Linked DNA regions of Homo sapiens. The protein of the gene in region 3 purifies or fractionates together with the protein of the main gene of each other region. This does not show direct contact. Each region holds a gene or a part of one and is shown on either strand. Other genes may lie near its edges. The genes, in order: TOM1L2, TOM1, CUEDC1 and SMURF2.

What was found.
Region 1: the proteins of CUEDC1 (region 3) and TOM1L2 purify together in Homo sapiens (co-immunoprecipitation; 3 studies listed by BioGRID and IntAct, with this or other methods). This does not show direct contact.
Region 2: the proteins of CUEDC1 (region 3) and TOM1 purify together in Homo sapiens (co-immunoprecipitation; 3 studies listed by BioGRID and IntAct, with this or other methods). This does not show direct contact.
Region 4: the proteins of CUEDC1 (region 3) and SMURF2 purify together in Homo sapiens (co-immunoprecipitation; 3 studies listed by BioGRID and IntAct, with this or other methods). This does not show direct contact.

What each region holds. Positions count from the first base shown.
Region 1 is NC_000017.11:17,878,382-17,885,400, forward strand, and holds part of TOM1L2 (TOM1-like protein 2), read right to left. Parts: intron 6,388-7,019; coding exon 6,253-6,387; intron 4,483-6,252; coding exon 4,324-4,482; intron 1,363-4,323; coding exon 1,246-1,362; intron 1-1,245. UniProt on the Homo sapiens protein: Acts as a MYO6/Myosin VI adapter protein that targets myosin VI to endocytic structures. May also play a role in recruiting clathrin to endosomes. May regulate growth factor-induced mitogenic signaling.
Region 2 is NC_000022.11:35,316,892-35,323,910, forward strand, and holds part of TOM1 (target of Myb1 membrane trafficking protein), read left to right. Parts: intron 1-985; coding exon 986-1,070; intron 1,071-4,850; exon of another isoform or gene 4,851-4,956; intron 4,957-5,067; coding exon 5,068-5,146; intron 5,147-6,107; exon of another isoform or gene 6,108-6,136; coding exon 6,137-6,286; intron 6,287-6,604; coding exon 6,605-6,739; intron 6,740-6,876; coding exon 6,877-7,019.
Region 3 is NC_000017.11:57,952,399-57,960,045, forward strand, and holds the start of CUEDC1 (CUE domain-containing protein 1), read right to left. Parts: upstream 3,015-7,647; 5' UTR 2,827-3,014; intron 1-2,826.
Region 4 is NC_000017.11:64,659,289-64,667,229, forward strand, and holds the start of SMURF2 (E3 ubiquitin-protein ligase SMURF2), read right to left. Parts: upstream 3,020-7,941; 5' UTR 2,593-3,019; coding exon 2,541-2,592; intron 1-2,540. UniProt on the Homo sapiens protein: E3 ubiquitin-protein ligase which accepts ubiquitin from an E2 ubiquitin-conjugating enzyme in the form of a thioester and then directly transfers the ubiquitin to targeted substrates.

The DNA.
Region 1 (7,019 bases), about 40 Mb from region 3:
TTCCCGGTCTATTTCCTGCAAAAAGCTGCAAGCTCCAGGGACCACAGCTCATGCACCTCTGTGCCCCTAGGACTGTGTTTTGTGTCAGGCCTGGAACAGGTCTCCACCCACCCTCACCCCCATAAGAGCCGATGGCTTTGGAGTAGGAAGGGGGCACAATAAGCAGCAACTTGGGACCAGGACAGGGCCTTCACAGGCGGCAAGCATGTGCCAGCAGCAGGGTAGAAGGTGTAGCACTTGGGGACCAAGACTGACAACGGAGGGCCAGACACAAATGGCAGTATCAGCAGCAGCAGCAGGTGTATCATGAGAAACTCATGCCAGGTTGCTAAATCAGTCTGGCTCCTGACCTGTTCCCTCAAGCATCTTGCCTCCCATTGAAAAGTGTGTGGGGCCTTGCAGTTCACAGCATCCTTCTTCCACCCTCCAGAAGGTCACTGCTTCTAAGGGCAGTACCACTGACATTTTCTGCAAATGCCAGGGTCATCTGAGGCTGGGTGTGGTGGAGATCTGGGCACTGGCTCTGGACCTGGCTGCCCTGGGAAACAGGCCTGAGGTGGGGGCCTTGACCCTGGTTTCAGGGGTAGACTGCAGGCCGCCCACTCCTGGACCCCATTCTGCCATGCCCCCAGATCCATGGGCTGTCCAGAGGCGGGGAGGCCAGTTTGCAATGGCAAACCACAATATGCCTGGGAATCCTCAGTGTTAGGGAAAAGCATGGGAGCATCACACTTCATCTCAGTCTCAGGACACCTTGGGGGTGAGGTGCCACTACAAGGGCTCCTGTGCACAGTCAAGGTTGAACAGGCCCTCCTGCAAAATGTGATGTTGAGGGACCAAAATACAGAAATAGTACAAGCTCAACTACATTTAAAATAAACCTACAAAAAAGTCAGAAAGAAAATACATCAAAGCACCTACAGTGGTTATTTACAGATGCTTGGGTCAAAGAAAGTTATTTTCTTTTCTGTGCTTTCTTTTTCTTTCTGTGAGCATGTATTCTACAACTGGCATTTTATAATCAGGAAAAAAATGTTATTAAGGAAAATAAAAAAGACAGACAGTGGTACTGGCCTCTGCCTGTCCGTAGGCAACGTGAGGCTGCATGTGTGCTCACATGGACTATCAACAACAGGGCCACTGGACCTGTCCCGCCTTGCCGCTGTGTCCCCGGGTGGGATCCTCCAACAGTGTACGGTGGAAGAGCTGCCACCACAGGCCAAGTGCTTCTGAAAGATGACTCACCTGCAGCAACTCCAGATCAGATGAATCCTCCTGTCCAGGGACCATTTCTGTTAACATCTCAGACATGACTTTTGTGTTTCCTCGAACGACGTCCAGTTCACTCCGCAGCCTGGCAATCTGGTGGGGGCCACGAGGAAGGAAAGCAGGAAGGAAAGGTCAGTCAGCCTGCACTTGCAATATCAGAATCAGCTTGCTCCTAGTCTAGTGACAATCCTTCTCACTGGGAGATCTGGGTTGCCTTTCTGAGTGCACACTGCAGAGGCCACCTTCTCATCTCCCTCTGGCCTGCCTGTCAGCTCTGAGAGAGCTGAATGGGCCCTGCCACCAACAGTCTGTTGTGCCTCTCTGACTGTGACACGAAAGCAGTACCACGTAGTGAAGGGCTCCGTGTCAGGAGTGCACCAAGCTGGCTCTCCGTCTCGGCTCTCCCACCACGGGAACTTGAGTAGAAGCTGAACCTCTCAGGGCTTCCGTTCCTGCTCTTTAAAATCCAAGTGCAGGAGGGCAGGAGCTCTGAGATCCCTTCAGAGCTGAGATCCTATTCTACAAAGCTCTGAGTTATAGACTCTGCTCCTAGGAGTTTTACATCTAAACACTAGGATCCCTCTGAGAGGCTGGGCAGTGTCAATAGCACTTTTCTGCTGCGGCAAGAATGAGAGAACAGGGGAAGACGACAGGGGAGACACCTTCCCCACCCAGCTCCCTACATGGTAACACAGCCCCTTGAAAAATACCCAAGTTGCCCATCAGCGATCCCAAAGCCTGGACCTGGGCCAAGGCCCAAGGCTCCTCTCCAGCAACAGAGACATCATACACTTTCTCCCCTTGCCCTCAGTCCTGTGCCTCAGATCTGCCCCTTCACTCCCTCAACCCCCTCGAAGGATCTGCAGAAACCACAGGGACCTTCCTTGCCCACAGTGAAATATCATAGAAGAATCTGCATAGAGGTGGCTACTGGTCCCATCACTCAGTGACAAGAGACCAAATAACGCTGGACAGAGGTCAAGAACTGCACAGGACACTGGAGGGAGCCCTGGAAGACTCAGCAGCAACATCCAGAGCCGGACCTGAGCCTCTCTGAGCCTTCGTTTCCTCACCTACAGAAAGGTGGCACTAACCTCACCAGGCTGCTGTGAGTTTCCCATGCGGCGCCTGGCATGCAGGTATGCTCTCTACTACACACATACGGCCCTTGTTCCTGCTCAAAGGTCCAGAGAGAGGAACTGTAATGTCATTCTTCCTGCACTGTGACCCAGCTTAAGTGACAACTTCTCTCCCCAGTGAAGCCTTTTCTGACTCTCCCCACCCCATCCTGAGGTAGAAGCAACCACTCCCGCCTCCTCAGGTTCCCACTCGCTGTGCCATCTTCCACTATTGCAGCTGTAGCAGCCTCTCCTGTGTGGGTGGGCTCTCTCAGCAGACCTTTAGCTTCTTAGGGCAGGAACTCAGCTGGGTTGAGCTTTATACCCTCAGCACAGAGACAGGGACAGGAGACCTCAATCAATGGTCTACCAGGGAGATGGTCTGGGTCCTGAGAGGCTCTTGTTAGCCTCTGGCTCTGCCTGGTGGATGATCCAGGGGTTTTCTTCAAAGTCTTGGTAGAGAGAAGAGGTTTCTGGCTAGGAAGGCCCAGGAAGGCTATGGGCAGCCACCCAGTAGACTCTGAAGCCCTGGGTCCTCTTGGCCAGGCTGGGTGCTGACCTGCCTACCTCTGCTTGCATTCTGCTCTCCAAGGGGCAACATGCCTCAGGGCTCCTGTGCTACCTATGCCCAGACCCTGCAGACCCAGCATCTTCTGGCTACTAGGAGGGCCTTCCCAAGCACCTCCCACACTTTGAGTCGGTGAAGGGGCTCAGTAACTGTCCAACTTCAAACATTTTCTGCCTTCCCTCAGAGCAGGAAGGGCACAGTTCTGCCCATAGAAGCAGGGCCAAAAGCCAGAGACCTTCTTTCCCACAGCACTTGGGTAGCCACAATGAGGACCTCTTCCATCTGCCTGTCAAGCCCACAGCTGCCTGGTGGGGTAACAAATCACTTGTTCTACTGATGGGAGACCGGGGTTAAATGTCCTGACTGAAGCCTAGAGTGAGCAGCAGAGCTGGGGGCTCACACCCAGGCCCTGGGGGCTTCAAGTTCACTCCTCCTGCTCTCACCGTACTCCCTGCTCAGAGCTAGCAGGGAAGTGTGAGGAACACGACACAACACTGCCATCCCTACACACACATTGCTATCCCTACACACACATTGCTTGACCCCTCTGCTTCAGTGAGGTTCCACAGTCATGACATTGTCGCAAATAGTAAATAAGGATTTGGTAAATATAAACATTGGAGAGTTTTTTTTTCCCCCAAGTCTGACCAATTCTCAAATTGTAACTAATTGAAGTTCTATGGATTCTTCTAAAGAGCACTCCCCAATTCATCTAAAAAATCCAGTGTGGGGTTAAAACTGCATTAGTTTATCAGGAAGTAACCCGGGAGGGTGGGGAGTGTTTGGGATAAAAGCAGGCTTCTTGTGCTTCAGGAGGGCCTCCCTGATCAGGTCACAGGCCTCTGATGGCTGACTTTTTTTATGGGATAGATCTAAGCCTCTGCATGATAGACAAGCCCGTCACAACTCAGCTGCACGTCTATGCTTTTGGCCTCACATTCTGCCATGGTTTCCTCCCAGATCTGGGCCCTACATATGCGCCTGCTCTCCAATCAAGCCACCTGCTGCTCCGAGAGAGCAGCGTCTGCATCTCTGCATTTAAATGTCATTGCTGAGCATGCGGTCTCACCTGACAAAGCCCAACTCCTGTGTCAGGACCCTCTGCATGTCAGGTCCCCGGTGCCTCCCAGGCACCACTCAACCCTGGGCTCACAACTCTGAGCCCTTGGTTCTGCTCCCCACCACAGCCTGACCACAATCCATCATGACTTCCTCAGCATCTCTCTCCCCTGGGGATTGAGCCCTTCCATCTCTGTGTCCCTAACACCCAGCACAATACCTGGCTTGGGAGGCCTTTGTAAGTGTCTCCCAGAAAGATGAAAAAGGATAGTCAGCTGGCTTGCCTATGGCCCCGAAGTATGCAAGTACCTGTTCTGAATTGGCTGTGATGGGGCCAGTCACACTCAGAGCTGGGGCCTGCGGTGCGGAGTAGGGAGCAGGAGGCGGCGAGGAATAGGAACCAGCACTTGTCCTCTGCTGTGATTGGGACCTGGGCATGGTCGCAGCTGGATCCACTTCAGGGACACTCTGGCATGGCAACAACAAAGTCCTCTGTTTACCTGGGCTGCCTGCATAGCTGGACCTGGTACCTACCCCACCCCATGCAGCACTTCCCCAAGGCTGCCCACGAAAGGCTCAAGGCCCTGCTCCACTGCTGCCCGGGTGAGGTTCACAGAACCCCACTGAGCCCAGGCTCTCCATCTGGGAAGTGGGGCTGCCAATGGCTCCTCCCTCTACTTACCTCTCAAGGAATGTGTGGCAGACCAATGAAAGCAACTCCAAAAGGCAGCACCGAGAGTGCTCTGTGAGCCCTCTGGTCATGGTTCCTATTATTAAGACCACCTCGGGATCCAAGTGGAGGGAGGGCGGTTATTAAGTTTTGCTAATCACAGATCTTTACTTGGTACCATAAGAATTACTTTTTTGGTCTTTACAAGTAGACTAATATAAATAGTAATTATGCAATTTACCAAATGTTTTTTGTAATTATAGGAACAACAACACTGCTCTCTGTCATTATTAGAAGAATGAAACAGGTTATGTTGATTTCACAAAGCATAGCGCGTGGTCTGGAGGGATCATGATGAAAACAGCCTCCAGAAAGGGCAATCCCCTGGGCCAGGTGCGGTGGCTTACGCCTGTAATCTCAGCACTTTGGGAGGACGAGGCGGGTGGATCACAAGGTCAGGAGATAGAGACCATCCTGGCTAACACAATGAAACCCTGTCTCTACTAAAAATACAAAAAATTAGCCAGGCATGGTGGCGGTCACCTGTAGTCCCAGCTACTCAGGAGGCTGAGGCAGGAGAATGGCGTGAACCCAGAAGGCGGAGCGTGCAGTGAGCCAAGATTGTGCCAGTGCACTCCAGCCTGGGCGACACAGCAAGACTCCGACTCAAAAAAAAGAGAAAGGGCAATCCCTCATGCTTGCCCTTTGGGTATCTCAGATGACCTCTTGCACATTAAAATTAAGTCGTGTTCCTACGAGAGATGTGCACAGGTGTGCTATCCTTCTCAGAGATGGGCAGTGGGGGCAGGCAAGGTGAAGTGTACTGGGATGAGGTGCCTCTCCCAGACCCTGGTGCTTTCCTGGCTCTCCCCCAGGCTAGGAGTGGAGTTGATTCCCAGCCAGTAGAGGGACTAGCTTCCTTGAGAAACCATGAGGCATGACCTACATGCTTTTAACCCTGAAGTGCCAAGCTGCCCCCTCCACGGTGCTCAAGTTACTGTTGGCACTGCAAAAGCTTTGGTGGGATGCCCCTAAAGGGACCTTCCCAGGGCTTTGATCCCAAGGCTGATGGAATCAAGGATTGAATCCAGAATCAATTCTGGATTGATGCTGAATACTCACAGCTCAAAATAAATTTTAGATCCATTTGACTTGGTACAATTGAAAAAACAGAAAGCTACTTTTTGACCCAAGAGTGACATCAAGCCCTGAGGTGCTATGGTGCTCTGAGGGACAACAGGATTCCCACACCAGATTCTAGGGGCCTCTGAAAAGCAGGTGCTAATGACCCTCACAGGATGGCTCCGCCCAAGTAGCCATTTCCATGAAAACCCTGAACTGATCCCTTTATTATATTCTTCCACAGACACTGCTGCCACTTAATCACCAGTCAACCAGCTGTCTCACTCCTGCATGCCCCTTGTTATTAAAAAGGAATGCCCCCGAGCTTTAAGAAAGCATGATGACAAGCTGAATAATTCAAAGGCAGCAGCAGAAGGGTGGCTGCAGCAGCTTGGCTCACCCGTTCTGCAGTAGGTCTTTCTAGAAAGTGCCAGCTGGAAGCTTACCCGCTGTGGTGTGTGTATGGGAGACAGAGCGTCCAAGTCTGCCATGGGAAATTCAACCCCTTTCCTCTTCAGCTCCTCATATATGTGCACAACGCCGGTGAGATCAGGACTGCTTCGAAAGGCATCAGCCCATGCCTGGGATAATAGAAGGCCTGTTAGGAAGCATTTCTCAGAGCTGCCATGGTATCTGAAAATCCAAAGTGGCCCACGTCCTCTCCCCGAGACCAGTGCTCTCCTACTTGCACATGCAAATTGCACTGGCTAAACCTATTCTGTTCCTCTCCTTCCGCAACTGCTGCCACGACACAGCTGGTGAAACCCTGGCTTTCAATGGTGCTGCTGAGCGTGAACAAAAACACAAAACTTAATTTAGCATGTATTTCCTTGGAGAAGAGACAGAGAAATAACACCTATGCACGGTGGTGCATCCTAAAAAGCAGGAATTTCCCTAATGGCAAGGAAATCAATTGCTGGGGCTGTTCAGCTGCAGGGAGTGGAAGCTGGAGCCTTGTCAGCTCAGCAGGGTGCCTGCCCTCTGTGCGGGAGCACCTCTGCCCTGAAAGCTTCTACTGGTGGAGTTGGGAACCGGCAACAAATTGAGCAGAAAGGAAAGGAGAAATTGATGTGTGACATGAAGTAAAGGCTAACTACAGGTTTCCTCAGATCAGAGACAACTAATGCTGAGCTTGTCTAGCCTAGCTCTGTCTAGCGCTGCTGCCAGTAGGTGAGATGACTGTGGTTCAAGGGAAGAAGAGCCCATTGGGAGC
Region 2 (7,019 bases), on a different chromosome or scaffold from region 3:
AATCATCACCTCTCTTTGGGGTAGTTCTGCTGGGTGGCTCGGCATCGGTCCCTTCTGTGGGTGCCTCAGAAGGGTACAGGAGGGCCAGGTGACCTGTTAGTAATGGAGCGTTTGCTTCCTAGGTAAAGAAGCTCTCTGTGAGATTCTAGAGGAACCTGGTTACAGGGGATGCCTCTAGGAAGAGGGGGCTGGGGCAGGGGACAGAGATAGATTTACCTAGCTCCATTGTATACCACTTGAGAACTTTTACATTTTGTATCCTGTGAATGGTTACCAACTCAAAAGATAATTCTTTTTTGCTTGTTTGTTTGTTTGTTTTGGAGATGGAGTTTCGCTCTCGTTGTCCAGGCTGGAGTGTGATGGCTCAATCTCTTTGCAACCTCCGCCTCCTGGGATCAAACGATTCTCCTGCCTCAGCCTCCCAAGTAGCCAGGATTACAGGCATGTGCCACCATGCCCAGCTACTTTTTTGTAGTTAGTAAAGACGGGGCTTCACCATGTTGGTCAGGCTGGTCTCAACTCCTGACCTCAGGTGATCCACCCACCTCAGCCTCCCAAAGTGCTGGGATTACAGGCGTGAGCCACCGCGCCCAGCTCAAAAGATAATTCTAAAGTCAAGGGAGAACATCTTATCTACAGAAATGAAGCAAAGCACTGTCTCCATATTGTCATGTCAGGAATAAGCACACGGAGGCCCACCTAGATTCCCCTCTGGTGCATCCCTTTGGTGCACTCAGAGTCATGGTTTCCTCATCCATTGAAGAGCAGAGGTACTCCGGCCTCAGTGGCTACAAGAATCTAGTGACGATGGGACAATGTGTATAGAGCAGTCTCACACAGGGCCAGGCCCTGTGCCCAGGAAGTGTCTGTCATCTTCCTCCTCCCCATCTCATCCGGCCCTGCACCCCCCTCCTCTCCCACCCACGGTTTGAGTTTACCCATTCAGGACCCCCTCATGACTTTATGACTCCTGGTTTCTTCTCAGAGAAAGCCACAGATGGCTCCCTGCAGAGCGAGGACTGGGCCCTCAACATGGAGATCTGCGACATCATCAACGAGACGGAGGAAGGGTAAGGGCCCCCCAAGGAGAGGTTGGGGGCAGAGACGGCCATCCCACCACGCAGCACACTCCTGCACCCTTCCAGGGAGCCCCTGCCCCAGCCCCATTGCTGCCATAGCCACCAAGTCTGACCCAACCCGCTTGGCTGCAGAGGCCATCTGAGCCCCTAGTACCTGAGCCCCATCCAAGGTAGGAATTCACAGCTGGCCCCTGGGGGCTGCCACCCCACCCCGCCTCTCTTAGTGGCAGCCCAGATTCCACACGGATCTGGAAGCCCAGCCTTGTGTGCAGCATCTGCCTAGGATGAGGCAAGCTGGAGACTCTTAATCAGAAGTTGACCCCAAGCGCCATCTGCATTCTGCAGGCGGGAGTGTGTACTAGAGAGACTCCGGCTTTTCTGCGAGCAAAAACAGACTTCCATTTCCTTAAGATTTGAAACCAGCCTGGAGGGTAAGGGAGATCACAAGGATGGCAGGGAAAGTGAAGCTGAACCGTGAGCCTGAACAGCACTGGCGTTTGCCGGGCGTTTCTGGTGTTGGGGTCACGGTATCGTCTTGCTCAGTGCCAAGGAGCCCTGCCAAGGCACATGGTGTGGGGGAAGGATTGGGGTCTTGGCCTCCAATGTCTGACTCGTTGTCACTGACCAGCCGTGTGACCTTCGGAAGTCACTTTACCTCTCTAGGTCTTTGTCCTCGAAGGTGCTCTGTTAGATCCTTCCAGCAATAAGCCCGAGTCCCTGGAGGGAGCAGAAAGGGGATGCGAGGGTCCCTGTCCTCTCAGGAAAACCCAGCGAAGGCTGGGCAGAGGTGTGGGAGCCGTGGGCAGCAGGAAGTGCTGCCAGACGAGGCCTCCATCCTGAGAAATCAGTGTGGACCCTCCTTTCCCTCTCCAGTTCTCACTGGGATCATCCAGCTCTCCCGCGGCCAGTGCAGGGTTCCTCTCAGCCCGGGAGGGCTTTGCGTGGAGAGGCGCAGGCTGGATGCAGGTGGAGGGCAGGGAGTGCCCAGCTCTGAGCTGGAGGGAGGCTGTGGGCATCTGAGTCACACAGTCAAGGCCCAGTCAGGAGAGGGCAGTGGCTGCCAGGAACCTGCCGGTGTCTTCCTCAGCCCTGCTCCCTGATCTTGCCAAGGACTCATGAGAGTGAGGGTGAGGGAAGGAGTGGTGGGCAGAGGTCAGAAGAAAGAAAGCAGGAGGCAGAAAACCTCACCAAGCCTCTAGACAGGCCTGGGAGCTTCATGGACGTCGCAGCTGCAAGTCACTGCAGTATCCTTGGGGACAGCAAGCCCCCATGTCCCTTATAAACATGGGAGGAACAGGCTCGGCGTCGGTCAGGTGCATTGCTATTTATTTGAGCACTTTGTGTGTTCCAGGCAACACAGGAGGCACTAGGGACCCAGCAGTGATCAAAGGCAGGCATGACCCTTGACCTCACCAAGCATGGCACCTAAACTTAGCCTCGTTGCTAAAGTGTCTCCCCCACTGGGTTGTGGCCTCCTTGTCATACACTTTGTGCTCCCAGCAGAGTACCGGACATCATGGGCCCACAGCAGTGGCAAGGCCAGAACTTCCGATTCCCAGTGCTTCCCTCTAGGGAGAGAAGGCGTCCAACAAGGACGCTGTCCCTGCGCTCTAGGAGGCTTCTTCTCTCCCAGGGTGGGCCCCCAGGTCAGTGGCGCATGGCGGAACATGCCAGGGAATGATTCTGATTCCCTTGTGTCTAGGCCACCCTAGAAGAGGTGGAAAGAAGTCACTATAAAGCGCTGAAGTAGCCCGTGGGTCAGTGGCCAGGCCAAGACCAGGAGCCAGGGACGGGCGAGGGGCTGCCCAGGGAGGCAAGGGTTGGAAACTGCTCTCAGGCTTCTGGGCCAGGACCCCCCTTGGTGGGCCACCATCCCTTTCCCCACCGTGTCCCTTCCACCGCAGGCCTGACCGCCTCCATAGCTCTAGCCCCCAGGCAGGCTCTGTCCCTAGGAAGCCTTGCCTCTGCCTTCACTCCTGCTGAGAACCAGTGCCAGGGTTCCAGGCTCTCCTGCCTTAGTCCTGGATGGGGTCAGCACTGACAGCCAGGCAGACAGCCGGATGGGTCCCAGTGGCCACTGGCCAGGCTGAGAAATGTTACTTGTGCTTCAGTAGTGTGATGGGCTCTAGGAAGGGAAGCTGTCCAAAGAGAACACCATCCCTGCCCTCTAGCAAGCTTCTTCTCTACCCAGGGTGGGCCCCCAGTTCAATGTGGCATGGCAGAACAGGCCAGGGAGACTGGAGGACCTGGGAAAGTGTTGTGGAAGGGGTGGATTTTAGCTGAGGCTTCACCTCATGGATGTGGAGGTCAGGAGCCTTCAGGGTGCAAGTGGGGGCCCTGCACAAAGGCTTTTAGACAAGAGCAGTCAGGGCAGCACTGAGTATACCTGTATAGGGCCGAGGGTGGAGGATGGTGGGAATCACAGAGGGGACAGGGAGAGCAGGCTGGCACCCCAGCTTCCAGGGGCCTCCCAACACCGTGACCCCTAGGCTTCTTCAGCCCTCCCCGACCTCCCCCACACTCAGTGTGGCCTCCTCTTAGTTCCTCCAAGGCATCAAGCTCCTCTGCACCCAAGACCTTGGTCCAGGCTCTGACCTTGACCCAAACTGCTCTGCCCCCACTCCCCCCAGGTGGTCCTTCCCATCTTTCAAGGCCCAACTACAAGACCACCCCCTCGGAGGTCTTTTCTGACCACCCCCATCCTCACCTCTGCTCTTTTTCCAGGACCTGCTTATTCCTTGCTCTTCTTTGGATCTCCCCGCAAGGTGGGGAGGAGGCAGGGCCATATGGTCTTGTTTGCCACTGTGTCCCCAGCACCTAGCATGGTGCTACATACATATTGGGTGCTTAATAAGAGTTGAATGGGCCAGACATGGTGGCTCACACTGGTAGTCTCAGCGTTTTGGGAGGCTGAGGCAGGAGGATCACTTGAGCCCAGGAGTTCCGGGCTACAGCGAGCTGTGATTGCACCACTGCACTCCAGCCTGGGCGACAGAGTGAGACTCTGTCTCAGAAGGAAAAAAAAAAAAAACTTGAATGGAAGGGTAAATGGACAGATAGAGCAGCTGGCCAGGACGGGGCATCAGAACACTATGCTAGCTGGGCTCAGGGACTCATGCCTGTAATCACAACATATTGGGAGGCCGAGGTGGGAGAATCATTTGAGCCCAGGAGTTTGAGACCAGCCTGGGCAACATAGCAAGACCCCATCTCTATTTTTGTAATGAAAACATTATGCCTCCAGGTTATTTGTTCTTAAACTTGAGCATGCATAAGAAACCCTTGGGGAGCATGAGAAGCATTCAGATTCAGGGGCCCCACTCCCTGAGAATTTGGTTCAGGTGGTCTAGGGTGGGGACCTAGGGTTCTGCTTTTTTTTTTTGAATGTCCTTTGTTTTTTTGAGACAGGGTCTCACTCTGTCGCCCAGGCTGGAGTACAGTGGCGCAATCTCGGCTCTCACTCTGTTGCCCAGGCTGGAGTACAGTGGCGTAATCTCGGCTCACTGCAACCTCTGCCTCCTGGGTTCAAGCGATTCTCCCGCCTCAACCTCCCAAGTAGCTGGGATTACAGGGTCATACCACCACGCCCGGCAAATTTTTGTATTTTTAGTAGAGACAGGGTTTCACCATGTTGGCCAGGCTGGTCTTGAACTCCTGGCCTCAAGTGATCCACCTGCCTCAGCCTCCCAAAGTCCTGGGATTACAGGCATGAGCCACCGCGCCCGGCCAGGTTCTGCACTTTTAACAAAACGCTCTCATCTTTTCTCAAAGTGACTCTGCTGCTGGAGGTCCAGGGGCCACAGGTTGTGAGTCCCTGCTAAGCAATGGGCTAGGAAGATTCTGATGTGATCAGAACCTGGCTGGATACACAAAACAGGTGGGGCACAGGGAGGATGGGCCAATAAGAACTGTTCCAACTCTCCAGGGTCTCTGGTGTTAGGTAAGGGGGCTCTATTCCTAAGCCCACCCTTTTTCTTGTCCTCCTTAGTCCCAAAGATGCCCTCCGAGCAGTAAAGAAGAGAATCGTGGGGAATAAGAACTTCCACGAGGTGATGCTGGCTCTCACAGTGAGTGCCCCATCTGTCTGTCCTGTGGCAGGACTACGGTCCACTGAAAGTCACCTCCCCTCAGACCCAGCAGGACTCCCAGCCTCCTCTGAGCTCCTCATTTGAGAGCTGGAAAGGTCTGTAGGCAACGCACTGTCCTGTCTACACTGCAGGCGGATGCAGAATGGCAAGAGGCCATTTGGAAAGGTTCTCCCCAATCCCCCAGCATGGGAACAGACGCTTACATCACTCCAGAACCACTGGCAGGGAGAGCCTGGGCCAAAGGACCTGTGGGTGACATTGAAGCTCAGTAAACCCAGGCCTCCGCGGGGGCAGGGAGGCCGGCTGACTGAGTTGGGTGCTGCTCGGCACTTTGGTGCTCTGGCAAATGAATGTAAAATAAATACCAGTGGCTGAGAACAGTCTTGCCCACACCACTGAACCAGCCCAGATCTCAGGGCGGCCAGACACACGTGGGCCTCCTAGCCGTCAGCATGGGTTTGGCTGGGGAAGATATAAATGCTGTCCCACCCTCCTCCACAAGCAGCATTTATATCCAGGTGAATTGGCTTAAGCAAAAAGCAAAGGCAATTCCTGCAGTGGGAAGTGGAGAGTGGGGAGGGAAGTTCAGTGCCTTTTCCCTGGGCCACAGGCTCACCAGTCGATTGACATCTCAGATGCTCCTTGATTTCCTCTTGGAGAGCCCCTTCTCTCTAGACCATGTTTAGCTCAGAGACAGCATTGGGATTCTGCGTGCACTGACGCCAGTCAGGGAAGGAAGTCCAGCCCACACACCATACCTCTGCCCACCCTAGGCCGTGCCCTCCAGTAAACAAGTCCCCCAGTCCTGGCATTGTCCCAGTCCTCCACATTCAAGGGTCTCACTCCAGGAAGTCCCATCTCCTCTCCCGGGCCTCCTCTCTGGGACACAGGAGGAGCCACGAGGGTGGGGGTTCTGAGCACCTCCTCTCCTCTGACCAAGGTGCTCGACGGCACCTCTCGGCCCTCCAGGTCTTAGAAACCTGTGTCAAGAACTGCGGGCACCGCTTCCACGTGCTGGTGGCCAGCCAGGACTTCGTGGAGAGTGTGCTGGTGAGGACCATCCTGCCCAAGAACAACCCACCCACCATCGTGCATGACAAAGTGCTCAACCTCATCCAGGTGAGTGCCAGGACAGGGCAGGGCACGGCCAGGAAGAGCTGTCAGTGCAGGAGCTTCCTGCCCAGTGGAGAGTCGAGGCCATCGTGTTTGTCCCAGGCTCCGCTTCTCATTTCGGGGCGTCTCGGTTGTCGGCTGGTGGGATGTTCTGTGGGGAGGGAGGCTTGCCAACTGCGTGCTTTGCTGTGGAGTGGGCAGGGCAGATGTAGTTAAAAAAAAAAAAAAAGCAGGGAAAGAATGTCTGTTCTCTGTCTGAGTGCCAGGTGGGCAGGCTCACAGGTGAGCTGTGGTTACCGGCTGTGTCCCCTTGTCCCCTCTCAGTCCTGGGCTGACGCGTTCCGCAGCTCGCCCGATCTGACAGGTGTGGTCACCATCTATGAGGACCTGCGGAGGAAAGGCCTGGAGTTCCCCATGACTGACCTGGACATGCTGTCACCCATCCACACACCCCAGAGGGTGAGAGAACTGCCGTACCGGGAACCAAGGGAAGGGAGGCAGGACTCATCCCCAGAGACATCACCAGGCTGGCCCCTGACTTCCTGGGCTCTTGATGTTCCCAGGAGCCCTCACTGATCCTGTTTTCCTCCCACTAGACCGTGTTCAACTCAGAGACACAATCAGGACAGGATTCTGTGGGCACTGACTCCAGCCAGCAAGAGGACTCTGGCCAGCATGCTGCCCCTCTGCCCGCCCCGCCCATACTCTCCGGTGACACGCCCATAGCACCAACCCCGGA
Region 3 (7,647 bases):
GTATTTTTAGTAGAGACGGGGTTTCACCATGTTGGCCAGACTAGTCTTAAACTCCTGACCTCAGGTGATCCACCCCCCTCGGCCTCCCAGAGTGGTGGGATTACAGGCATGAGCCACCGCATCCGGCCTCCAATGCCCTTTATAGCTCTTGCTTCCTGTAAGTGCAAGAGCCAGCAACACAGAAGCACCACCTCCTCCAGCTCACCTTGGATAGTCAGAGGTGACCCCTGTCAGACACCCAGCTTCCTGTGCCCCAAGGCTCTAGAATACTCCTGCCTCTGCTGCTTATTACCAGAGCAAATGTAGGAAGCTCTAAAGGAAGAATACCAGTGTGAGTGCTGCCATATGCCAAACACTGTGCTCTCTAGTTAAACAAAGAAAAATCCCCTACAGCTCTCTGTGGGGGACTTGAGCCTAAGGAAGTCTTCTCAGTCCCAAGGTAGAGAAGTCACAAATGGCAGATCGTCCTAAAGCTCTTCCAGATCCCTAGCAAGTGTAGATGCCACAAACACCTATGCAGCAGCCCAGGACCCAGTGAGCCAAGAAAGGAAAGGCAGGCCAGGCCTCCTCTGGCCTGGGGCTGCACTGGGGATAGTGACAGCAGCCCTCTGGCCCCCACTTGCCTTCAAGAGTCCAAAGGGATCTAAGGAACCGACAACACCCAGATCATAGCCTTGGACAATTCTGCCCCAAGACCTCCTTAAGAGTCGTCTTTCACACTTAACACTCTCTACTAAAGCACCTCAACCCCATTTCCCCAAGAACAAGCTGGAGCTCTTAAAGGCCTGGATCTCACACCCAGCTGAAACACCAGAATATCCACCTCCACCCAAATCCCTTTATTTACCTCTAATTCAATAGACCAGTGGGCCTAGTCCAGTGCCCAGGGCCTTCCCACCACACAGACAGCAAAATGAGCCCCTGGAAAAGGGCCACCTCATCTGCCCCCATCCTCTAGCTAGCTGTAGGGAGCTGGGATCTGTCCAGACACTCCAGGTCTCCATGGCCACAAGCCCAAAGTTGCATAGGGAGGTCATGAGAAAAGACCTTAGAAGCAGTCTGCTCTTTGAACCCTGGGATTATTCACTGACCAGCCAAAAAGGTGACAACTGTTCTGATGGCCCAGGTCAGACCAGTAACTCTAGGGCAGAGGTCTCAATGGAGGTCCTGGTTCCAAGGGGGTATATTAACCGTCTGGTGTTGAATACAGGTGTCTCCCTACACACATGCATTTTGGAAGGAGAGGAGTTAGAGCTTTCACCAGATTCTCAAAGGGGCCCATGACTCCAACCTCTGGCCCTAGTTGGCCTGGCCCAGGAGCTGGGGATACAGCCCTAGTCATATCAACATCCCTGGGCCATCCTCGCTGTCCAGGGTCTCTCTTCTATTCAAGGATGTGCCCAGGTCGGTAGCAGTATCCTGTTTCCCTTGTCCTGGCCCTTCCAGCTGCAGAAAGTGGACAGCGGGTTTCACACCCAGCCCTGCTGCACACGCTCCAGCTTCCTGGAGACCCGAGCCAGGTTTCTCCCAGCAGCACCTCTCCATCCCAGAGATGGCACCATATTCAAACTGAGGTACCAGTGGCACTGACCCCCAACAACAGAGAGGACCCAGCTTCACACTTGATCCAGCAGGGGCCCAACCACATGGTGAGATGACTTCCTCCGTGAGAGAATTCCTGGGGTCCCTCACCTCCTTCAGGCACAGCTGGCTATAAAGAAAAGGGGTGAAAGGCCCAGTACATCTCCCTGAGTCCTTTCTCCTGGGCCAGGTGGCTCAGGTGCTGCGGGATCACCCAGGGAAGGCTCATTCCTCTCGCTACAAGACGCTGACTGCGGATCAGGTGGGGAGCACGGTGGATGGTCTTCTTGTATCCTCTATCGCCTCCAGGGCATCTTGTTTCTAAACTCCCAGGGAGTCCCCTCATCTTCTACTCCACTACTCCACCAAAAAAAGGAAAATCTAAACCCTCCCTCCCCTTAAAACACATTCCGTCTCAGGAATTTAATTTCAGTGTACGTTTCTTAGAGCTAAAACTTTTTTTAAGGGGAAAAGAAATGGGCAGGGCAGTGCTGGGTGTAAGGCGACCACGCGACCGAGAAAAGGAAGAGGGAGGAATGAATAAACGCTGACACCAGCCCCCCTTGGAGCTCAGAGCCTGGGGCACAGGAGCCGGCGGGGCGGGCGAGCAGGGGCGGGGACAGCGCATTCCCAACTTTCCCTGGCCGAGCTGACGGGAGATACAGCTCCCAGGGGACCGGGAGGGACCAAAAAAGGCTGAGCCGACCTGTGACATCGGCGGGGGGCAGGAAGCGAAGCTCCCCTCCCCCTGAAAGGCGCTCGGCTCCCAGCAGGCGCCCCCGCCTGCCGTCGCCGCCCAGCCTGCGCCCCCAGGCCCGGGCACTGCGGGGAGGGGCGCCCACACAAAAGGGGGAGCGGCGGGAGAGGGGACTCGGGCGAAGCCGGCTCCGGGAGGCCTCGTCTCCCTTCCCTGCGGCGCTGGCCCGCGCCCCCCGGTCTAATCGCGCGCCCCGCTCCCGGCCCCCCAGATGCCCGCACGCCCCCCGCGCCCGGGGCCCGGGATGAGGTGGGGGCTCGGGAAGGAAGGGCGGGCGGGGACCTGCCGCACGCGGAGCTCCCGGGGAGCCGCGCCGACAGCCCCGGGAATCAAACTCGCGACGGCCCGGCCCTCCCGGCGGCGCCTGGGCAACGGGTCCCGAGAAGGTGGGGCCGCTGGGCCGGGGCCGCGGCCGGGATTGCGCGCGGGGCGCCGGCGAGGACCGCGCCCGGGGCCGGGCGGGAGCCGCGGGAGCGCGGGGGTCTTACCGGGCAGCGCCACGCGCGTCCGCTCCGCGCGGGCCGCAGGGGCCGGGCCGCGGGCCGGGCGGGGGAGGGGCTGCAATCCGCAGCGGTGGCGGCGGGGCCAGGCTCGGCGGCGGCGGCGCGGCTGGGGCGCGGGGAGGCGGAGAAAGTGAGGCGAGGCCGGCTTCCTAGCGGCGGGCGGCGAGAAATGCAGCTGTCCCTGCGCGGCTGCCGGCAGGGCCACAAGTGGGGCCGCGCGGGGAGGAGCGGGGCTGCGGGCGGGGCGGGGCGGGGGCCCGGCTGCGGCGCCCCCGGGCCCTTTCCCTATGGCCGACCCCTTTCCAGAGAGGAGGGAAGCGGACCTGGGGGTCCGGAAACCTACATGGTTGCCGGGGGTGGAGAGGGGAGCACCCAGTGAAGGCTGGAAAAATGCCCTCCGTGTACCTCCCTCCCCGGCCGCAGTGACTCCCTAGCTTGCGGGCAGGAGGGCGTGAGCGGGGTGCCTCGACCTCCCGCGCAGAGCGGGGTGCGGGGCATCCTGCCCCTCCCAGCTGCGGAGAGGGTGGGCGGAGGAGACCTGAGACCTCCGAGACTCCGCGGGGAGCTAAGAGCAGGGCTGCCCGACAGGTTCCAGGTCAGTGCCAGGAACCCAGGGTGAGGACGCACAGCTGGGGCTTGGGACACAGGTGTGGAGGAGGGGCACCTCCCTGGAATTAGGGCCCCGGAAAGGAAACCAAATCAAATGCTGAGGACACAGGAGATGGTGGGAAGGGGGAGCAAATCAAAGCTATCACTCGTCCACACCGACAGATACCACCTGCCATCTCCCATTTTCTCCTCCCCCAACCTCCCCAGCATCCCTGATCACTTCAAGGGCTGCTGAGCCCTGGGAAGATTTTCCACGGAAGAACTTGTTTAATAAATGGGAAACTGACCTTTGCTATACTTTTCCCACGTGCTTTCATTTCAGACTCCAATTTGGGAGTAGGTAGCCTAGGTCAGGTGGTGACCACCAAGCACCCTGCTACCTAGGGGATCTGAGGAGGGTGAAGAAGGCCAGATGCAAACTAAGCTCTGTCCCCAAACAACTTGCAAAGGGTCTGCACCCTCCTCCTGGAAAAGTCTGCCTTACAGACCCATTTGCCCATCTGGGCCCAGAACCCCAGGAATAGCCCCCCTCTCCCCTCCTCTGAGCGCTTGCAATTTGCTAGCCTTGCTGAGACAGATCGACACGCTCAGCCTCAGAGACAGCTGATGGTAAAAACCACAAACCAAAGTGCCCCAGACACCAATGTGTTTCCATCATTTGCATGTCAAGGGCAAGTTTCTTCAGCAAGGTGGGAAACTGGGAGGGGGAGAAACCTCAGAACCACACCCTCCTCGGGGAGGCCCAACGTTAGGTTAGCATGTTGAACGGAACTCCAGGACTGGGTTTCCAAACCCCTCTGAGGATCTCCTCTCTCCTGCTCCTCTCTCCCCACACTTCACTCCCTGGTGCATTCAATTTCCGGGGGAGGCAGGGTGCTTGAAATCCCAGAAGATGGTCTTCAGGCCCCAGGTTAAAGATTCTTAATCCGAAGGGACAGACCCATGCCTCTATACTGACTCCTGGCTCCTTTCCCAGGTTGTAACTGAGAGCTCAGGATTTGTCCGCCTGGCCAATATAGTCTAGATTATGTTATCAAGTGTATTACCTTACACTTACCCATAGTGCAGTTCATTTGTCACTTTCCTGCTTACTTGCAAGATCCCTCTGCAGTTCATTCCTGTCACCTTGGCATTTCAGGAGCAGAAAAATGCATCTGCAAACCTGGAGATTTCCATTTGCACTCGCCTATGGATTGCTCATAATTTTTTTTTTTTTGAGACGGAGTTTCGCTCTGTCACCCAGGCTGGAGTGCAGTGGCACGATCTCAACTCACTGCAACCTCCGCCTCCCAGGTTCAAGCAATTCTCCTGCCTACGCCTCCTGAGTAGCTGGGGTTACAGGTGGGTGCCACCACGCCCGGCTAGTAAAATTTTTAAATACATTATTATTATAGTCATTAATAAAACCAGTTGCTCTAATGGACACTCTTCCTTGAAGCACACTTTTCTTGGGCTTTGCTAACATACTCCTCCTTTTGGGTCTGTCCTTCTGGAAGCTTTTTCTCAGACCCCTTCCCTGCCTCTCACAACTTCCCCACCCCCAGACACCTCCACCCACTCCCACCACTGCCTCTGAGCCCCCAGGGCTCCAGCCCCTCACACCAGCCGCCTACAGAGGGCCACCTGTGAGTCTCCCAGACACCTAAAACTCAAGGAGGCTAAAGGCGACTGAGACCGCTTCCCTACCTAAGCCACCTCCTCCTACTCTCCTGAATCCACCTCTGGCTCAGAGGCTGGAAGCCTCTGTCTCCTGTGCAGCTTCCCTGGCCCTCCACTGGTTATCAGATCCTGTTCATTTCTCCTTCTCTCACCGCCTCACTCCTCCACTTCTGCCTGGTTCAGGCCCTATTGTCTCTGCTCTTCCAGAGATGTCCCTTTTGCTTTCCAGCCCAACCTCCTATGTGCTTCAGGAAACTCTGTTAGTTCTTCTTTCTCCTCCCCTCTGCTTCAAAACTACAAACACTTCAGGATACCCCCTTCTAAGGGAACCTGGCCCCAACCCTGCCCTGCCCTCAAGTCATTGCCCTGTTTCTCTCTTCTGCATTCATCAGTAGGCCTCCCCTAAGAAGCAACCAGACCCACTCTCTGCTTCTTCAAGCCCTATTCAATCCTCAACTTCCTACAATCTGACTTTCTTCCCCTTCATCCTAGGGGAAGGTGATTTTTACAGGGAGGCACCGGCATCTTTCTAGGGGAAGATGCCTTTCCAAGGGAGGCAACCTTAGGCTCCTCATTGTTTCAACCCATGGGCCTCCTCCCTATCCCATTCCTTCACTCCATTGGAGCCCTGGATGTTGCTAACGCCTCCTTGAAACCATTCCCACCCTCATGGCTTCCTAGCCTCTGCGTCTTTCTATCCATTCCCTCATTTCTTCAGCTCTGCCTGCCCCAGGGGTTTCTCCAAGGCTGAGTCCTCTAACTTTCTAACCAACCCCTCTTTCCAGATGTTCTCACAGGGGGAATAGAGTGGGGCAGGTACCAACCCCTCATGGCTCCACTTGCAGACTGCATATATATATATATATATATATATATATATATATATTTTTTTTTTTTTTTTTTTTTTTAAGACAGAGTCTCGCTCTTGTTGTACAGCTTGGAGTACAGTGGCGCGATCTCGGCTCACGGCAACCTCTGCCTCCCAGGTTCAAGCGATTCTTCCAACTCAGCCTCCCGAGTAGCTAGAACTACAGGTGCACGCCACCATGCCCAGCTAATTTTTTTATTTTTAGTAGAAATGAGGTTTTACCATGTTGGCCAGGCTGGTCTCAAACTCCCGACCTCCGCCCGCCATGGCCTACCAAAGTGCTGGAATTACAGGCATGAGCCACCGCACCCGGCTATTTTTTTTTTTTTTTTTTTTGGTTGTTGTCTGTTTGTTTTGTTTTGTTTTGTTTTTGAGACGTAGTTTCGCTCTTGTTGCCCAGGCTGGAGTGCAATGGCATGATCTTGGCTCACTGCAACCTCCACCTCCCAGATTCAAGCGATTCTCCTGCCTCAGCCTCCCGAGTAGCTGGGATTACAGGCATGCACCACCACGCCCAGCTAATTTTGTATTTTTCGTAGAGACGGGGTTTCTCCATGTTGGTCAGGCTGGTCTCAAACTCCCAACCTCAGGTGATCTGCCCACCTCAGCCTCCCAAAGTGCTGGGATTACAGGCGTGGACCACCGTGCCCAGCCAAGTTTTATTAATAACATTACCCCCTCTGCACCTAGTGGAGTGTGCTGATGACCTGTCCGAGCACCCCACTCCCTCTCTCAAGCCCCTGACTGGCATGTGTTACTGCCATTGGACAAGCTGTCCCACAGCCACTGCACCTTCAGTGCGGGGAGCCTGGAGCCCATCATCTCCACATCCTTTGCAAGAATTCTCTGTCCTGGATAAGCAGCACCTCCCATTCGCTCAAGCTGCAGATGTTACATGCTGCCTTCCTCCCCTCGTACATTCAACCCCCTCAGTAAACTCAGGGCTTTCTGCTTCTGAGTTTCTCTGGAACCTGCCCCCTCTCCTCTGCCCTGGCTCAGGCCCTGCTGCCAGGGCCCTGCCTTTCAATCCATCCTTTTCAGTGCCAGCAGTTACTTTTCTAATGTACAAACCGGTGATGTCTCTGCACTGCTGAACAAGGTGGATGACTTCCCATTGCTTGGAGAATGAAATTTAAACTCCTGAGAGAGGCCCTTCCCAGGCTGCCCTTAACTTCCATTCCAGCTCTTCCCATTTTCTGTCCTCATGCCACCCACCCACTCCCGGGCTAGAACCAGCCAAGAACAGGGCAGTCACCATGGCTCACATCTGTAGTCCCAGCACTTTGGGAGGCCGAGGCGGGTGAATCACTTGAGGCCAGGAGTTCGAGACCAGCCTGGCCAACATGGTAAAACCCTATTTCTACTAAAAATACAAAAATTAGCCAGGCGTGGTGGCAGGCGCCTGTGGTCCCAGCTACCTGGGAGGCTGAGGCAGGAAAATTGCTTGAACCTGGGAGGTGGAGGTTGCAGTGAGCCAAGATCGTGCTTGACTCCAGCCTGGGTGACAGAGCGAGACTCAATCTCAAACAAACAAACAAAACCAGCCAAGAACACTTGCTGTTTCCACAGACTGAATGTGAAGGTGATGGAAGCCTTTTGCTAAGTCTGTGGCTGTATGAAGCTCAGATCGCTGGAGCATATGGCATTATCTACTGTGAGAATGAGGCTGA
Region 4 (7,941 bases), 6.7 Mb from region 3:
CTATAAATTTAAAATACTAATATGGTATTAACTTAAAGCAAAGAACAATAATTTTAAAACACCTTATAGCCCAAGTGTATTGTAAACCAAATATAAATTCACTGTGGGATCTGTCTTTTTTTAAGTGATTTTTTTTCCTCTATTAGGCAACCCAGATCTAAATGAACTGTTAAACACTTAGTCTAAAGGTATGCCAAACATTTCTTAAGGTCTTCACAAAGAATCAACTTTTTTTTTTTTTTTTTTTTTAAACAAAATGAGGCCTAGGTTAAATATTTTATTTGGCTTCTCAAGATGGACTGAGAAGTTGGGCACCAGCTCCAGACCAATTCCTGGACGCACATCAAACACAGCCCTGTCATTTATCCAGTCAGTCAAAACAATCTTTTCCATCTAACCCTTTAATGTTTATGTCCTAAAAAGCTGCTAATTGAATCCAGCTCTTGAGATCTATTTGCTAAAATCTATACCATCTAATTTATAAATGATGAACAAAAATGGAAGAAAAAATATGTTAACTTTCCTGGCAAAACAGAAGAGACTCCACTGTAACCAAAGAAGGAAGGACAATGTTTTTAATATTTGTCAAATTTTAAGAGAAAACTATTCAGAGACAAATAGTTGTAAGAAACTCAGAGTACCTCAAACTGTTTTTACTATTAAGAGGACACAGGGTATTTAAAATTCCTCAGAAAAACCTGAAACAAAATCACTATAAATGTAGTTCAATATTCCCCCTTCCCCTAAAATATAAGCATAATCTTTCCTCTTAATAAACTTTAATTATAAATTCTTATAATGTATCATAGGCAGTACGGAAACCACAGATAAACACTTTAAGATCTATTAAGTCATACTAAAAACCTCAACTAACCTTATCTGCAGAAAATCAAAAACCCAATTTTTTCCCTCATTTTCTCTACATAGCCCAGAGGAGGGTAAATGGAAACAGCCTATTTCTGATGCTTTCTGCACACCTGGGATCACATGTTCTTTCCACGATCACTGACTACAGACAGCAACAGCAACAGATAAACTCTAAAGCAACAAAGATCCCCTATAAAGGTTTCCACTGACTCCTCCCAATGTAAGGACACTGAATGAGGGGGGAGGGGGTGGAATACAAGTATCCTCCAATCCAGGTTTTCCATTAAGAATCACTCAGTTAATGATTCCCTGCAATTTTCCCTAGGGAAAGGAAAACTGCCATGAAAGTAATATATTATTTAAATTGCAGCCAACATACATTCAAGCTAAATTCTCAAATACCAAATTCACTGCAAGTTTTCATCCAGCAAGTTCAGCCAGTGGACTGGGATGTGACACACAGGCATTTAACTACAAAATTAGTCCAAATAAATCTCAAAGTCTAGTGTGGGCAAACATAATTACAGTTTATCCGTACACGTGCACGCACACACAAATCCTCTACGGAAAATTATCTTTCTCACCACTCACCCGAATACAAACGTGGACAATTTATCAGGGGTAAATGGTGAAGGTAGGATAACGCCGTGATTCCAATTCCTTTACAAACCAAATAAAAGTTCTCCTAAAACGGGGGTGGCATGTCCATGTAAGAATACCAAAAATGGCACTGTAAGCAAAACGTACCTGTAATGTTAAAGATTTCATGCACCTGGAATCATAAACACTTTGTAAGTGTAGTCTTCTATCTGGCAACCCCTCCGGACATTCTTTTCCATTTCGAAAAAGGAATGGGGAGGGTGGGGAGAGTAACAGAAAGTTTGCTCGAAAGTTTGTATGAGCACATACTTAGCAATGCACCCCCCCCAAAAAAGTGTGTTTTTAAAGCAGGTCTGGCGTTAGAAGTTAGACACAAGTTCTGCGGCCTAAAAGGAACAACCCCAAACATGCCACCCTACAATCAGACACTTCCAAAACACAGTGTACAATGAGCCCAAGCCGTCGGATCAGACAGGCACACCGGAAAAGTCAACCTGTCTCCTCACCTCAGAGACATGAGTTTAAGGTGTGTGGCCCGGGCAGCGGTGGCCGGCGGCGGGGAGTAAAGGTTTTTCATGCGGGCATAACTGGGTGTGTGCAAGGTAACAACCCGGGAACACACACGCACACCCTCCCGTTAAGCGCTCCATCTTTAAGGAGTGTTTACTGCGCGCAGTCAGCAACCGGATTCAATAATCCTCGCCACGGGAGCTCTTCATCCCCTTCACGATCTCACCTGGGCGGTAGCCCAGGGGCTGTTCCCCGAGCCCCGGGAGGCAGCGTCTGGCTCCTTGACCAAGACTTTCCGACCTGAAATCCGCCTGCGATGCGAACCGGTGTATTCTCCCCTCCACAAAACACCACCCCCCGCCCCGAGTCATCCTCGGCTTTTTAAACAATGTCCAAACCAGAGCAAGTGGTTTTCCAATTACTCTCCCTGAACTAGGCCTTCCCATTCCTCCGACCCCCAACTCATCATTGATCGCGACCCTGGCCCTTCCCAAGGCCACAGGCACCCCCCGCCAGCTCGCCCACCCCGCGGCTGCCCAGCCCGGCCCGCCGCCCCCCCTCACCTGTCAGGCGCAGCTTGACGGGCCCGTTCCTCCGGCCTCCGGGGTTAGACATGTCCCCGGCGGCGGGGGCGGCGGGGGCGGCGGGCGGCACGGGGGCGACGGCGAGGCGCGGCGGAGTCACCACAGCGGCCGGGGCTGGGGCCCGAGCAGCCGGCGCCTCGGCCGCCACGGCCGGAGGGTCCCGGATGTGCCGAGAGTCGTCGCCATGAGCCGCGGAGGGAGCGGGACGCCGAGCTCCCCCCTCCTCCCACTTCTCCTTCCTCGGCCCGGGCCGCACAACAAAGCGGCAGCCGCGGCCGCCCGCGCCGCCTCCGCCCGCGCCCCCGCCGCCTCCTCGCGGCCGCCGAGGCCTTTCCCTCCTCTCGTCTCGGCGAGGCCCAGTAGCCGACGGGGCTGGTCGGCTGAAGCGGGCGGTGCTCGGGGGCGCCGGAGCAGAACTCTGGGCTCGGCCGCTTCCTCCTCCACCCGCCCTCTTGTCTGAGGGACCCGGGACCTGGGGCCGCCGCCGCCACTCGTCGGCTCCGGGGGGCGGGGAGGAGACGGGAGGCGGGGCCGGCGGGGCGGGGCGGGGCCGGGGCGGGGCCGGCGGGCGCGCGCAGGGTGCCCTGGCGGGCACCGGCAGTCAGGGAGGGTGTGAGCTGCCGCCGAGGGTCCCACGCGGAACGCTGGGAGGGAGCAGGCAGGGAGCAAAGCGGCGGCGGGCGCGGCAGCTCTGTGGCACCTGGAGGGGTTTACTGTCCGGGCCACTTAAGGGAGAACTTTTGTCCAAGCAGGGCCAACTGCATTTTATTAGACGCCCACTGCGTGCAGGGCGCTCCGAGAGGCTGGGGCGAGGAAGGTTAGAACCGAGTCCGCTGCCTGCCGGGAACTTGGCGTCTTTCGGGCGAGGGAAGAGAAAGCATTCCCACGCCGATGGTTCCAGCAAAACCCCAGGAATGCTCTGCTCCTGGTCTTGTAGTTGACACCTCCATCCGGGACTCACCTGGTGGAGGAGATCAGGTTACCTGCCGACTCCCGCTCTTTTCAGGTGCAGCCAAGGATGGGGAGATGATACGTCTTAAAGGATTAACAAGATAAACCTTGGAGAGTAATGTATGAAGAGTTGTTCATACGCTACTGTATTTCGTTATCTCAGGAGGAGAAAGAGAAAAGTTTTTAAAAAATGTGTACCTTATCCTTTGACATTGTAACTGTACTGCTAGAAATTTATTTTTTATTTTTTTGTTTTTAGACAGGGTCTCCCTCTGTCGCCCAGGCTGGAGTGCAGTGGTGCGAACACGGCTCACTGCAGTCTCAACTTCCGGGGCTCAGGTGATCCTCCCACCTGAGCCTCTGGAGTAGCTGAGACCACAGTGTGCACCACTACGCCCCACTAATTTTTGTATTTTTAGTAGAGACATGTTTAGTAGAGACGTTTAGGTTTTCCCATGTTGCCCAGGCTGGTCACGAACTCCTGACCTCAAGCGATCAGCCCGCCTCGGCCTCCCAAAGTGCTGGGATTACAGACCTGAGCCACCGCACCGGCCCTATTCTTGACAAATAATCGTACAGAAGATGTTCTTTGCTATATTCCATTAATAACAAAAGGGGAATGAGGGAATAGCATAATAGTCCAGGAACCGCATGGTTTTTTATGCAGCCATGTAACTATTTTTATGAAGATCATATAATATGGAAGAATGTATATGTAATGCAAAGTTTAAAAACAGAATAGAAGTTGTATGCATATACATGCGAAAGTATCTAGCACAATGTAAACTACTAAGGACAATAGCGTGGGGGATTTTTTATGTGATTCGTTAGTTTTGCTTTAGGCTATTATAACATTAATGCAATTTTAAATGTTTTGGATTAATATATTTTAATCCTTATTCCATGCCAGTCATTTCTTTTAATACATCAGTGAACTCACTTCTCCAGATAGTTACCTGCGAGAACATTTCATCAGTTTGGATACAGCCCTACAATTAAAAGTAATCCAAAAAAGTATATGAAGTTCTAGACATCACACTAAAAATACCACAGATAGGCCGGGCACAGTGGCTCACGCCTGTAATTCCAACACTTTGGGAGGCCGAGGTGGGCGGATCATTTGAGGTCAGGAGTTTGAGACCAGCCTGGCCAACATGGTGAAACCCCGTCTGTACTAAAAAAAAATACAAAAAAATTAGCCGGGCCTGGTGGCGCATGCCTGTGGTCCCAGCAATTAGGGAGGCTGAGGCAAGAGAATCGCTTGAACACGGGAGGTTGCAGTGAGCCGAGATCACGCCACTGCACTTCAGCCTGGGTGACAGAGCGAGACTCCATATCAAAAATAAATACATAAATAAATAAAAATTAAAATACCAGAGATAGTGCCAGCAATTCATTCAACAAATATTAAGTGGCCATTTTGTGCAAAGCAATGAACAAGGTCCTTTAGAAATGCTTCCTTGTACTACAAATATATAGAAATCAATGTGAACAATAGCTGCTACCACAATTTAAGAGGGCAGACAGTGGCAAAAAACTTAGCAAACTAATGTACACATACACATTTGCCTTATTTTTACAGCACGCTTTGTTCCCAACCACCCAACTAACATAATTTGTAGCCTTGTATTAGGTAATAGAAGTTAGGATTTCAGAACGTCATGGGAGACCTGGGGGAGACTGCTTGTTTTGAAGTTGAAAGCAGTAAATTAAAAAATGTAAGTGACAGCATAGAAAAATGTATATAGGGTTAACGTGCAGAGGTTTGTATTTAGGCTTTCTTGTAAGGTTAAATCCTGTTGTTTAAAACAAATATTCAGATAAGAATAACACTAAAACCATTCAAGGGCTGGGCATGGTGACTCATGCCTGTAATCCTAGCACTTTGGGAGGCCGAGGCAGAGGAGTCACTTGAGCCCAGGAGTTTGAAACCAGCCTGGGCAACATGGCAAAACCCCGTATCTACAAAACATTAGCCAGGAGTGGTGGCCTGCACCTATAGGCCCAGCTACTCAGGAGGCTGAGATAGGATCACCTGAGCCTGTGGAGGTCAAGGTTGCAGTGAGCCGTGATCACACCACTGCATTCCAGTGCCACTGCATTCCATCCTGGGCAGCATACTGAGACTATCACAAAAATAAAAAGAAAATCAATGTACTGGTAATGATTTTTTTAAGCAGGTACATGGATGTTCATTTTATTGTTTTCCTTGCCATCTTAAATATTGACATTGACTGTAAACATTTATTTAAAAGTAACTAAATGTTTAAAATGAAGTAAAATAAATGAAAACATAGAACAGGGGCAGAGCGTGGTGGCTAACACCTGTAATCCCCACACTTCGGGAGACCAAGGTGGGAGGATCACTGGAGCCCAGGAGGTTGAGGCTGCAGTGAGCCATGATTATGCCATTGCACTCCAGCCTGGGCAACAGAGTAAGACCCTACCTCAAAAAACAAATGCACTCAAAAACAGAATACTCATAATAGGAAAGTCATTTTGAAGGCCTCTCTTAAGTGAGTGGCCTCATCTAGTCCAGGCTCAGATTTCAGAGACGATTGGGTTAGAAAGTTTAAAAAAACAAAAAAGTTTATGTGTTTCTCTTCCCTTGGGGATATGTTTATGTCCCCAAAGGGGGATATATATACATTATAATGACAACATGTAGGGAATTACCAAATTAATAGCCGGAACTTGGGAAAGATAAGACGGAAAATTAAGGGATGGGAATCTTAGGTAAAATCAATTATATACATTCAGGTGTAAAAGTCTTTGAGGAAAGGAAAATAGCATTGGACATGAAAACAGAACCATTCTTTTTTTTTTTTTAGACGGAGTCTCACTCTGTTGCCCAGGCTGGAGTGCAGTGGTGCAATCTCGGCTCACTGCAACCTCCACCTCCTGGGTTCAAGTGATTCTCCTGCCGCAGCCTCCTGAGTAGCTGGGATTACAGGCACCCACCACCACACCTGGCTAATTTTTGTATTTTTTTTTTTTTTTTTAGTAGAGACGGGGGTTTCCCCATGCTGGTCAGGCTGGTCTCGAACTCCTGACCTTGTGATCCACCCTCCTCGGCCTCCCAAAGTGCTGGGATTACAGGCGTGAGCCACTGTGCCCAGCAGGACCATTCTTTACATATCAAAATATTACTATGAGATTCATTCAGCCACCATTTTTATTTTATTTTATTTTATTTTATTTTATTTTATTTTTTGAGTTGGAGTCTCACTCTGTCACCCAGGCTGGAGTGCAGTGGTGCGACCTTGGCTCATTGCAACCTCTGCCTTCCAAGTTCACGTGATTCTCCTGCCTCAGCCTCCGGAGTAGCTGGGATTATAGGCACCTGCCACCACCCCCAGCTAATGTTTGTATTTTTAGTAGAGGTGGGGTTTCACCATGTTGGCCAGGCTGGTCTCAAACTCTTGACCTCAGGTGATCCGCCTGCCTAGGTGTCCCAAAGTGCTAGGATAACAGGCGTGAGCCACCGCGCCCGGCCCTATTCTTGAAAAATAAGTAATAGTACAGAAGATGTTCTTTGCTAAATTCCATTAATAACAAAAAAGAAATGAGGGAACAGCATAATGATCCGTAAACTGCATGGTCTTTTGGGGTTTTGTTGTTGTTGTTGTTGTTGTTGTTTGTTTTTTGAGACGGAGTCTCCCTCTGTCGCCAGGCTGGAGTGCAGTGGCGCCATCTCGGCTCACTGCAACCTCCGCCTCCCAGGTTCAAGCAATTCTCCTACCTCAGCCTCCGAGTAGCTGGGACTACAGGCGCGCGCCACAATGCCCAGCTAATTTTTTGTGTTTTTAGTAGAGACAGGGTTTCACCATGTTGGCCAAGATGGTCTCAATCTCTTGATTTCATGATCCGCCCACCTCGGCCTCCCAAAGTGCTAGGATTACAGGCGTGAGCCCCTGCGCCCGGCCAACCGCATGGTTTTTTATGCAGCCATTTAACCGACGATTTTTATGAGGATCATATAATATGGTAGAATTTATATGTAATGCAAAGTTTAAAAACAGAAGAAAAGTTGTAAGCATGTACATGCAAAAGTATCTAGCACAATGTAAACTACTAAGGAAAATAACGTGAGAGTTTTTTATGTGATTTATTAGTTTTGCTTTAGGTTGTTATAACATTAATGCAATTTTACATGTTTTGGATTAATATACTTTAATCCTTATTCCATGCCAGTCACTGCTTTTAATGCATCAGTGAAGTTGCTTCTCAGGATAGTTACCTCCAAGAGCATTTCATCAGTCTGGATACGACCTTACAATTAAAGTGATCCAAAAAATATATGAAGTTCTTGACATCGTACTAAAAATACCAGAGATAGGCCAGGCACAGTGGCTCATGCCTGTAATTCCAGCACTTTTGGGAGGCTGAGGCGGGCGGATCATTTGAGGTCAGGAGTTCGAGACCAGCC